2 separate regions of the Homo sapiens genome follow, and region 1 is linked to region 2. Evidence: fine-mapped expression QTL. A gene starts in region 2. The other region holds a variant in brackets. All regions are shown on one strand. Distances are between the middles of the regions.

The links. PIP is the estimated chance that this variant, and not a neighbour inherited with it, causes the effect.
Region 1: its variant is fine-mapped to the expression of SYT9-AS1 in whole blood (INTERVAL, PIP 0.91).

What each region holds. Positions count from the first base shown.
Region 1 is chr11:7,486,812-7,492,195 of GRCh38, forward strand. It overlaps OLFML1 (olfactomedin like 1), which reads left to right. Exons shown (of 3, transcript NM_198474.4): 2 at 1,316-1,604. Among named protein-coding and RNA genes, the nearest start is that of OLFML1, 4.0 kb to the left of the region's middle. The variant A/G (reference allele first, on the strand shown) is at 2,288.
Region 2 is chr11:7,463,404-7,468,787 of GRCh38, forward strand. It overlaps SYT9-AS1 (SYT9 antisense RNA 1), which reads right to left and starts at 2,432. Exons shown (of 5, transcript NR_103855.1): 1 at 2,350-2,432. It overlaps SYT9 (synaptotagmin 9), which reads left to right. Exons shown (of 7, transcript NM_175733.4): 7 at 3,389-5,384. The coding sequence ends at 3,397. RefSeq lists an enhancer at 4,519-4,578.

The DNA.
Region 1 (5,384 bases), 23 kb after region 2:
AAAATCTTCATGTCCAAATTATATGTTCTTCTAGTTATAGTCAGGGTAAAGTAATTCCACATAGCAGGCCGAATGCATTTCCTAAGGGCGTCCAGCCAACAGGCTGGGGCCTGGAGGCAGTGGATGAAGTGTTCCCAGACGAGCGGCCTCTTGCGCTTCTTCACTTGCTCCCTCCTGAGCCTCACCTCCTTAGAAGTGCCAGAATGATGCTCAGTCAGGATCCCTCTGCATTTAGCACCGACTTGCCTTGGGAGTAAAGCCAGCCAAATCCCTGCAAATTGTCTTTCACTACCTTAAGAACTTGTCAAGGGTATGAAGTACAGACTGATCCTTTTATAGCTATGAATGTGGATTTGAAAAAGACAAGGATATGATCTGTATAGATCTTCCCACCCCAGTCCTGACCTGAGGTGAAGCCAAGTCGCAGGTGGCAGTCACTGTTGGCCAGCGCAGACACTTAACAATACAGTGATAGCATTCCCAGCCTGAGAAGCCAGTGTCGGAGGGGTAGGAAAAAAGAGGGTAGGGATTTAGGGAATTATTTTGGGTCTCTCTTTCTGTCTTTCTCCCTTCAAAATAAACAGCCTTACGTATTGTTGTTTGGAGCATACATTTTTACATTTGTGGATAGAATTTTGATAAACCATGCCAAATGAGCTTTAAGTAGACATTCTCTTTGACCAAGCAATCCCATTTCCATTCATTTATTCTTTTGTTCAGCAAATATTTATTGAATAGTATTATGTGCTTGGCCCTGTGCCAAGTGCTAGGGACGGATATTCTGGAAATCTACCTTAAAATAATCTGATGAAGATGTAAATACAAAGGTTTTTTTTTCCCTTAATAATCTGATGAAGATGTAAATAAAAAGTTTTTTTCTCAGCATTGTTTGAATGACAAAAAATTAAAAACTATGTAAATGTACCTCAAAAAGAGTCTAACAGAATAAATAATGGGATATCAATTAAATGGAATGCTCTCATTAAAGTTATGGTATAGGTATACTTTAATTAGTATCAAAGTATGTTCACAATATATCTGCAAGTGAAAAAGATGATACAAAACATATAGTAAAATCACATTTTAAAAATATATATTTACATATGTATGACTAAATGCTTGGGAAAACTTTTAAAAACTGATATACTCAAGTATCAATACTACCTTTGAATTTAGGAATTATGGGAGATTTCAATTTTTCCCCTATTTGATGATGTGTAATTTTCTAATCCTTTTCTATAAATGATAGGTATTTATATTATTTGGGTAATTTAAATAACAAGCAATAATTTGCAAATTTATTTTCTGACTGAAGCAAGGGCTGGAAAAATGTACCCAAGCAACGAGGGCATACATTCAAGAATTCCAAGAGTTCTCAAAAAATATATCTGTCATGCTGGGAAGATGTCAGACCTACACAAGTGAGTACAAGAGTGCAGTGGGTAACTTGGCACTGAGAGTTGAACGTGCCCAACGGGAGATTGACTACATACAATACCTTCGAGAGGCTGACGAGTGCATCGAATCAGAGGACAAGACACTGGCAGAAATGTTGCTCCAAGAAGCTGAAGAAGAGAAAAAGATCCGGACTCTGCTGAATGCAAGTAAGAAAACTGCATCTTTTCCTAGCCCTTCTAGGGACTATTATGCTCAGAAACACACAGACTCAGAGCAGTCAGGGAGCATCATAGAGTAATGAGAGTAAGAATTGGAGGTGTGCTTTTGTGTGCATTGCTGAGAGAGAAAGCTATACAGAGAACAGGTGTCCAAAGAGAAATCCATTCTCGCAAAGCCATTCTTTCTTTCACACACAGTGCCTAAAGCCTCCATAGATGGTGAAGGCTATAGTGCCAAAAGTCAGCCCAAAGAGACTACCTCCTGATAAATCTTGGTTTGGTGGAGATGTGTGGTCCCAGATTTTTTCAGGGAAAGTAGCAGTTTGGTGGATTCTACATCCAGTACCCAGGCTGTAGATAGCATCTGCAAATGTACCAAGAAACAGTCTTAAATTGGAAATGGCAACAGCCAACCCTCAGGGATGGGAACTGCAGTGAATCACTATTGTGTGTGCTGTCTGAGATGGTGATATGCATGGGATGTGGTCTAATCTTGTGATCCATCAGAATCACTTCCAAGCCATTAAGAATAATGTGTAGCAGCTCAAATTATAATAAACAGTATCAGGCAATAAACACACAAATGACAAAGAAAAATTTTCTGTGCCCGAGTCTATTTCATTAAAACAATGAGGGAGACAAATCTCCCACTTCAGGGTTTGTATTCTGAG[A/G]TGTTTTCATTGCAAATAGGAAGACTTTATTTACATGCTAATTACGTCTGTTCCAATTCAAGAACCTCCATCAGGGAAATGACATATAAGCTGAGTGCCATCATTGTGCTAAAAGTTTCACATACCTTCTCAATGTAATCCTTCTAAGAACTTCATGGTCACTATAAGGAAAAGGGTCTTCCTAAATGAGGTGACACTTGGTCTCAGTTTTGAACAAAGAAGTTAGAAACGAATGAGTAGAGGGTACTTCAAGTCAGGGCACAATATACCAAAGGCATGAGGGTACTGTAGCACCTTGACATGTAGACCCGCAAATATGGCTGAGTGAAAGCTTTTTAGAGAGGTGACAGTAGGGAAACTAGGTTGAAGAGCTCAGCAGGACCCAGTTAATGAGAGACCTTGCATGCTAGATGAAGGAAGTTGAAGCTCACTGGAGAAACTATAGAGAACCATTGAGCAATTTTAAACAAGGGCATGATACGAAGGAAGAGGCTAAGACTAGAGAGAGGAGACCAGTCAGGGAATGCTGCAATGATTTGGGCAACAAGTAATAGTGTTGGCATTAAGTGTCATGGGACAGAGAACAGGTGGATTTGAGAGCCATTGAGAATTGGAATCCACATGGCTTTCTGACTGCTAATTAAAACTAAATGATGAGTGAGAGAGATGAGTCCAGGATGTTTCCCAGGTTTTGGGCTTAGGTCATCGAATGGTTGGTATGAAATATGCTGAGATGGAAAACTCAAAAGGAGTTTGGGAGCACTTATTACTCTATAATTTTTTTCAGACCATTTATAATTTTGAAACCATTTAGTTCATTTATTGGCTCATAGGTTATTTCCTACCTCCCTATCTGTAATGTCAGCTCTATGAGAGCTTGGAACCCCAGTTTCATGTTCAATGCTGTGTCTCCAGTGCCTAGAATGGGGTCTATTCAATAAATAGTTTTCAGTGAGTAATTAAACAATTAAAACAAATAAATGAGTAGATGTAGGGATTGTCAACACAGGCAGAGGGGTTAGTTAGGCTTTGGTGGGGGGGGGGGCGGGGAACCAAAAAACATCTTATCCCTGAGTCAGAAGAAAGAGAGGAGGGTGCCCTGCCTATAATATGAAGCAATGGGTCAAGTAAGCAATCCTTTTTGGCCCTGACATTGTCCTGAGATGAATCATCCTCAAAGAGGGAGAAGCTGGCGGTAAGCACAGAGTGAGGGAAGGAAATGGGTCAAAAGAGGATGAACAGGGGCTTCCTAAAAAGCTGATGGAGAGGACTGGGTGCTAATGTGGCCTGAGCTAGAATGTGTCCGAACTCTCACACTGGGGGTTCAGGCAGGACGCTAAGTCTGAATAGTGGTGCTGAATTGGATCCCTGAGCTGTTTCTGGTCCCTGGATACTCTCAGCCCACCAGGTGTTGAGACTACCCTTTCCCATTCCAGCTAGAGCTCAGTGGAGGTCCTGAGACTGGACTTGCTTTTTCAACCCCCATCCTCTGCCCCTCAGATCTGGTAGTTCTGAAATATCCCCTCTCCTAGCTCTGTGGTATATGAAAACTTATTTCTGAACCTATCAGAGATTGCTACATCCATGTCTGTTGCCTCTGGAGCTCACATTTGATGCTGTGTTGGTTTGTAAATCAGCCAATACTTGTTGCCTCCCACTACTGGATGGGCCCTGTGCTGCACTGCAGGGATGGAGGACTGAGTAGGACATGTCTGCATCCTGCTGTAGCTTCCTTACCACTTCTCTTGCCTCCCACAGTCTGCCTCCTGTCATGCAGACCTTCCACAACACAAAATAGATCATAATTCTCCTCTGTGTAGAATGTATTTTCGTCATTTACCATCAATTATCAACAACAAAAAAATCCATTCAAATCTCCTAGCTTTCTTTTACATAAGAAAGGCCCTTTACAAAGTGATGCAAGTTGATCTCCAGCTCCTTCTCCCATAACTTACCCAAATGCAGTTTAAATATACATATACATATTTTTATGTATGTGTGTATATATGTATTAAAATATATATTATATATAATTAATATATATTTATATATTTTTTCCTAGCAATCCTTTATGACTCAAAAATGCTGTGAATTCTTTGTGAAGACCTATGAGGGTGAGGATAGAGGTGAGGGGGCTGCCAGGCAGATTGGCCTATAATGCTCCTGGAGCAATTCATTCAGTCCTCCCAGGGAGCATCTCACATATCCGACCACACAAGTCTGTATGTATTCAACTCCTCAGTCATTCCACAAACATACTGACATCTTCTTTTCTGCATTCACAGAGCCTAGGTCATGTCCTCCCATGGAGAAGGCCACAGAAATTGTTTACAGAAGAAATAACAATGGCAGAGGCCCCTGCAGAGCTTAGTTTAGGGGAAGACAAACCTAGAAACAATCACAACGGTGTGATTAGTGTCTCCTCGATTTATTATTTTTAGAGGTTCTCTATCTAGGAGTAGACTTTGGAATGTCAATTTATTCCCGTTAGGCACTGTTTTGTATTGTATATATTATGCACACTCCTGCTTTTTTGCCATTTCTGTTAGTAACTATGCCTATATCAGTTCTCATGCTATACAACAAATTACCATAGATTTAGCATCTTAAAACTACACATTTACTACCTCAGAGTTTCTGTGGGTCAGGAGTCCATGCATGGCTTAGCTGGGTCCTCTGCTGGTACTTGTAGGGCTGGGACCCTCAGCTCCTACAGCCTCTCCTTGCCATAGGCACTGCACAACACAGCTATTGCTCCTTCAAGTAGATGGAGAGTGCTTCTCTTTAGGAAGCGCCTAGTCCCTCTTTTCAGGGCTTTTATGTGATTCAGCCAGCCCACCCATAATTTCCTATTGATAACTTCAAAATCAACTGATTTGGAAACTTATCTGTATATGCAAAATTCCTTCACCTTTGTCTTACAATGTAATGCAATCACAGAGTGCTGTCCTGTCATACACTCACAGGTCCTGCCCACACTCAAGGGAAGGGAATTACACTGGGCATGTACACCAGGGGGTAAAAATCCTGGGGATTGTTTAAGAAATCTGCCTATCACAATGCTTTAGTCTGATAGGCTCAGCTGGTGCTACTAATT
Region 2 (5,384 bases):
TTATAGGAGTTTGGAAAGGTGTAATTTGCTTATTTTGTTTGATTTGGTTGAGATTTTCTAGTCTTCCCCCAACAGAAGCCAGACAAAAGGGGGCTGAACAACAACAGCAAAATTTACTCATGTCTTCTCCTGAGACAACTTTTTCAGAACTGACTTGTATGCTTGACTTTCCCTAGAATAAGTTTGTTTTCAAGAGGCTTTTCTTGCAATATTGCTGGTAGCAATGACCCTATCACGACACCAGATGTATTGAAACTCCTTAATCCTGTCATCTTGTGGGCTTGGTCCCAGCTCACAAGCATTCTAGGACCTTAGTGGCGCTGTCCAGAAGAGGAAAAGATTCAGAGCCCAGAAAACTCACCCAAGTGAAGGGCTGCACCTTAAGAAGGGGGAGACCAGTAGGCTGCACCGCCGTATTTCCAGAGGCTGACCTTGATTCTGGCTAATTACACACACAAGGAAATTCACCAAATGAGCAAAACCCAGCTATGGAGTTCAGGTGGGAGCTGTGCTATGACTTGGCCATTGGCAACAATGCCAATGCTAGTGGTATCCCTGGGTATGGGGACTGGTAAAAAAAATTGGCTAAGGTTGCAGCCTAGCCCTCTAAGCAGGCTTTAGACAGGCCATAAGAAATCAGGTACAGAGGTGGTCCCTAAGGCTGGGTACTTTGGGAGAGCTAAACCCAAAGCATTCTGAAGGAACTGCTTAAATGAAGAGGTAAAATTAGGTCATAATAGGGAAAAATGAGGTTGTGCACAGAACTGTGGGGGCAAACAAGATACATATGCATGTCACTAGCTGGGGGAATCCAGAGAAATGGGATAAGCAGCTAGGAAACCATAAGTGGGATGTGGCACCTGCTGTATGCTACTAGTTTGGACTAGGGTTCTTAAAGGAAGCTCATCTGGCTAGATTTAGGGAGTCTAGAAAGCCAAGGCAGATAAAGTACTTTTAATACATCAGAAATGTAGACTGGACCTACAGAGGGAATTGACATAATTGCTAAAGCTTGGACTTTGAAATTGGAAGTCTTGGGTTTAAATCTCAGCTCTGACACTTAGTCACAGTGTGGCCTTGTGCAAATTAGTGTCTCTACAACGCTGCATCCTCCATTAAAGAACCCCACGGGGTCTTTTAAGAACTTGTAAAGTCCATATCCCAGTGCCTGGCATACAATAAGTACCCAAAAATGAAGGAATATGGGCTGATACCATCACAACTAATTCCAGACCACATTCATTGGTGACACTGAGCCTGTTAACAATTTGCTTTCTCTGATGGGAAGGAACTCAGGAATTGGCAAACTGATATGGGTATGGGTTTCACAGTTGAAAGAGCGGCTAGGGAACCACGGGCCTGATGTAGATGGTGGCTTAGAAAGTAGAGCTATTCGGGGCCAGGCGCGGTGGCTCACGCCTGTAATCCCAGTACTTTGGGAGGCCGAGGCGGGCGGATCACGAGGTCAGGAGATCAAGACCATCATGGCTAACACAGTGAAACCCCGTCTCTACTAAAAATACAAAAAAAAAAAATTAGCCGGGCGTGGTGGCGGGCGCCTGTAGTCCCAGCTACTCAGGAGGCTGAGGCAGGAGAATGGCATGAACCCGGGAGGTGGAGCTTGCAGTGAGTCGAGATTGCGCCACTGCACTCCAGCCTGGGGACAGAGCAAGACTCCATCTCAAAAAAAACGAAAGTAGAGCTATTTGGATGGTGCTCCAGGGTAGCAGCTGATCTGGCAAACTGATATTTGAACCACAATATTAAGACAAATATCATTCAGTCTTTCTTCCTAGACACAGAAACAAAGACCCCTTTCCCAGAGATGTGTGTGTGTGCCCACACACATGCACACACTTCAAAGCCACGGGTCACAATCAAACGTGGTTTCCCTTTGCAGTGAACACACTGGCTTTTAATACTTTCCTTAAGTAAGTTATAGCCTCACATGTGAACTTTTGATCTCTGAAATGAAGTCCATAAATTTCATTGTCAGAATGGTTGCTACTCTTTTATAGTTTACGTGTAAATTTTGTTATTCCTATATCCATAGAAGTCACTTCAGTTTTTTCTCTCTATGGCCACAGTATTACTACATTTAATCTGTGCTGGAAGGTGCCCTGAGTTTAAATTAAGTTGAATGCTGGGCTGAGTGTGAAACACAAGAGATACTGCTAGTCTAAGTCTGGGGCTTCCTTAAGAGAGCCCCTCCTTCACATCTCGGAAACAAGGAATGATGTTGCACCACTCAGACCTCATCTTTCCATCCCAGCTGTATTAGTCCATTTTCACGCTGCTGACAAAGACATATCCGAGAGTGGGAAGAAAAAGAGGTTTAACTGGACTTACAGTTCCACATGGCTGGGGAGGCCTCAGAATCATGGCAGGAGGCAAAAGGCACTTCTTACATGGCAGCAGCAAGAGAAAATGAGGAAGAAGCAAAAGCAGAAACCCCTGATAAACCCATCAGATCTCGTGAGACTTATTCACTATCACAAGAACAGCACGGGGAAGACCGGCCCCCATGATTCAATTACCTCCCCTGCCGGGTCCCTTCCCACAACACGTGGGAAGTCTGGGAGGTACAACTCAAGTTGAGATTTGGGTGGGGGCACAACTAAATCATATCACCAGCCTTACCTCCGACCACTTCATTCCTCACACTACAGTCCAGTCACACCAAATTGTGATGATTCCTTCAATGCACCATGCCCTTTATTGCATTCTGCCTTTGCACAGTCTCTTTCCTCTACCCCAAGTGACCCTTCTTCTTTCCAGAGGGATTCCTCTTCAGCCTAAATGGCTTAGCTCAAGACTCATCAATCAGAATGCTCTCTATAGACCTCCTCAATCCCTTTGAAGTTACTTTCTCCCTTCCCATTGCCCCTGCAGTATTCTATGCAGCTTCTCACATCATAATATCTCCATCTGTGAGCCCTTTGAAAGCAGGGGGAGTGTCCTACTTATGGGCTTAGTATCCCCAGCATCTATTACCATGCCTGGCACTTGTTTGGTGCACATTAAAAATGTATGAATGGGCCAGGCACAGTGACTCACGCCTGTAATCCCACCACTTTGGGAGGCCGAGGCAGGCAGATCACAAGGTCAGGAGTTCGAGCCCAGCCTGGCCAACATGGTGACACCCTGTCTCTACTAAAAATACAAAAATTAGCCAGGTGTGGCGGCGGGCACCTGTAATCCCAGCTACTTGGGAGGCTGAGGCAGGAGAATTGCTTGAACCCAGGAGGCGGAGGTTGCAGTGAGCCAAGATCGCGCCACTGCACTCCAGCCTGGGTGACAGAGCAAGACTCTGTCTCAAAAAAAAAAAAAAAAGAAAAAAAATGTATGAATGAAAGCCAAATTATTTTTTTGTTTTTTCTTCCTGCAGAAACGATGACCATGGGTAAGAGGACTGCTTGTGCCAAGGACAAAATAGGACAACCATCTCACAAAGATCTTAAGTAACTTTTTCCATCCAGCAACATCCAGACGATTTCAGTGACCAAATGCTCAGCTGTAACCACAGCACTAACTGGCCTTCTTTCCAGATTGGGTTTGGTGAACCTGAATGGTCCAGCCACCTTCTGCAGGTGGCCCAAGGTGATGTGCTGCAGGGAAGCATGTCTCTCATGCCAAGAACCAAGATCGGACTATGAACAAAAACAAATGATAGATATAGTGACAGTACCAAGAGTACCAGGACTCAATGTTTCATATGAAGCCCTTGGTGATGAGGACATAGCATCTGCCCTGGAAATCGTTATTCCAACATAATATTATTTTCTAGAATGCCCTGGAAGGACAGAATATTTAAAAATATATCCAGGTGCTAAATAGGCAGCAGATCTCAATTCACACATGACTACCTTTGAGCTAATGACTGTCTCCAGAAAATAACTGTGCCCCAAGAAGTGCTCCAGATTTGCAAGGAATAGCCCCAAGAGAATACCAAGACAAGCAGGCTGTTCCCTGGAAAAAATCTAATGCAAGGAGGGCTAGTTCACAGCAAATTCACTGCCTCCTCCCATGCACGTGGTAGAGAGTACCAGTATCAACATGGCCCTGTTTTCTGCTAAAACCAGATTTTGAGGAATCAGAGACCCCCAACACTACTCACTCAGTAGCTAGCAGCCCCTTCCTTTCAACTGGGAGTGTTATTAGAATGAAAAGTAATTAGTTAGAAGGGCATACATCTCAGTGGCATGAGCATTGTGGAATATCCTTTCCTAGGCACATTCGTCCACTAAGGGAACAGCCTCAGAAACTGGTACAGCAATGGGTGAGATGAGATCATGGAGAGAGAACACAGCCATCCCCTATAGAAAGGCACAGCTTTTGGGCTTCTCTGGCCTGAATGCCTTCTGGGGTATTTCCATATGCAACAGCCCAGAGTCATAGCCTTGGGCAACCACACATAGAGGTTTCCTTCTCACTTCAGACACATACATCACTTTCACACCACTTGGGGATGGAAATACCTACAAGAGTGAAGGTCAAGGGCCCTCCCCAGGCATCTCATTCATTACTCAGCTTCCTTCCTGACCAAGTCTGCCAACCAATGGCCAGCTATGCGCCTCATCCTCATTGCTTCTGCCTCCACGTAAATGAAACCAAAGGCCTCAGCATATCCTGGGAGGACTGGGGGCTGTTACCTAATGGTCCTCTCTGTCCCATTATAGGTGCAAGGCACCCCATCCACACATTTGCACCACTACTCCAAGATAGTATTTTTCTTTTCACACAATCTCTTTACAGCAGAATCCAGAGTTGGATTGTAGTTTACCTTCCTGGAAAGCTCATTATCTCTGTTTGAATTAACATTTCAGCATGGAACTAACTGGGCGGAGGAAGGATCGTTATACGTCTTCAGAAAGTTCTCATTGCCCCAGCTGCCTAGTACTATACAAGAAGCTCTACTTTGATGGCAGATCTAAGAAGGCTATAGGCCTTTGTTTGTAGGAAGCAGTGTCATTACATTCAAGCTTCACTTCTCTGATTGGCTTCCAACCACTGGGATTCAAAGAGAATCCAAGGTTCTGCCTATGTCTGATGACATAAGGAAAACTTGGCTTCCTCTGCTCAAGGTTCCCCTCTGCTCATCCCTCCTCATTCAGACATCCTCCACCATACCAGTGTTTAGAAGCAAAACATGAAGGGCTAGCGCCACCAGGATAGTTAGCAGAAATATTGTCTGTAAAGCTAGGCAGATGAGCCCAGAAGAATGGTCCCAGAGAAAGCAGACTGGCTCCAATAGATATCAGGCAGCAATCCCAATAAATTCTGACATGTCCTTGGCAATGGAAGCCTGGGTTGGAGATCCTGAGGCAGCTGTGCCTACTGTTCCCCACCTCAGAAGCTTCCTGCCCAGAGAGCCAGCAGCCTTG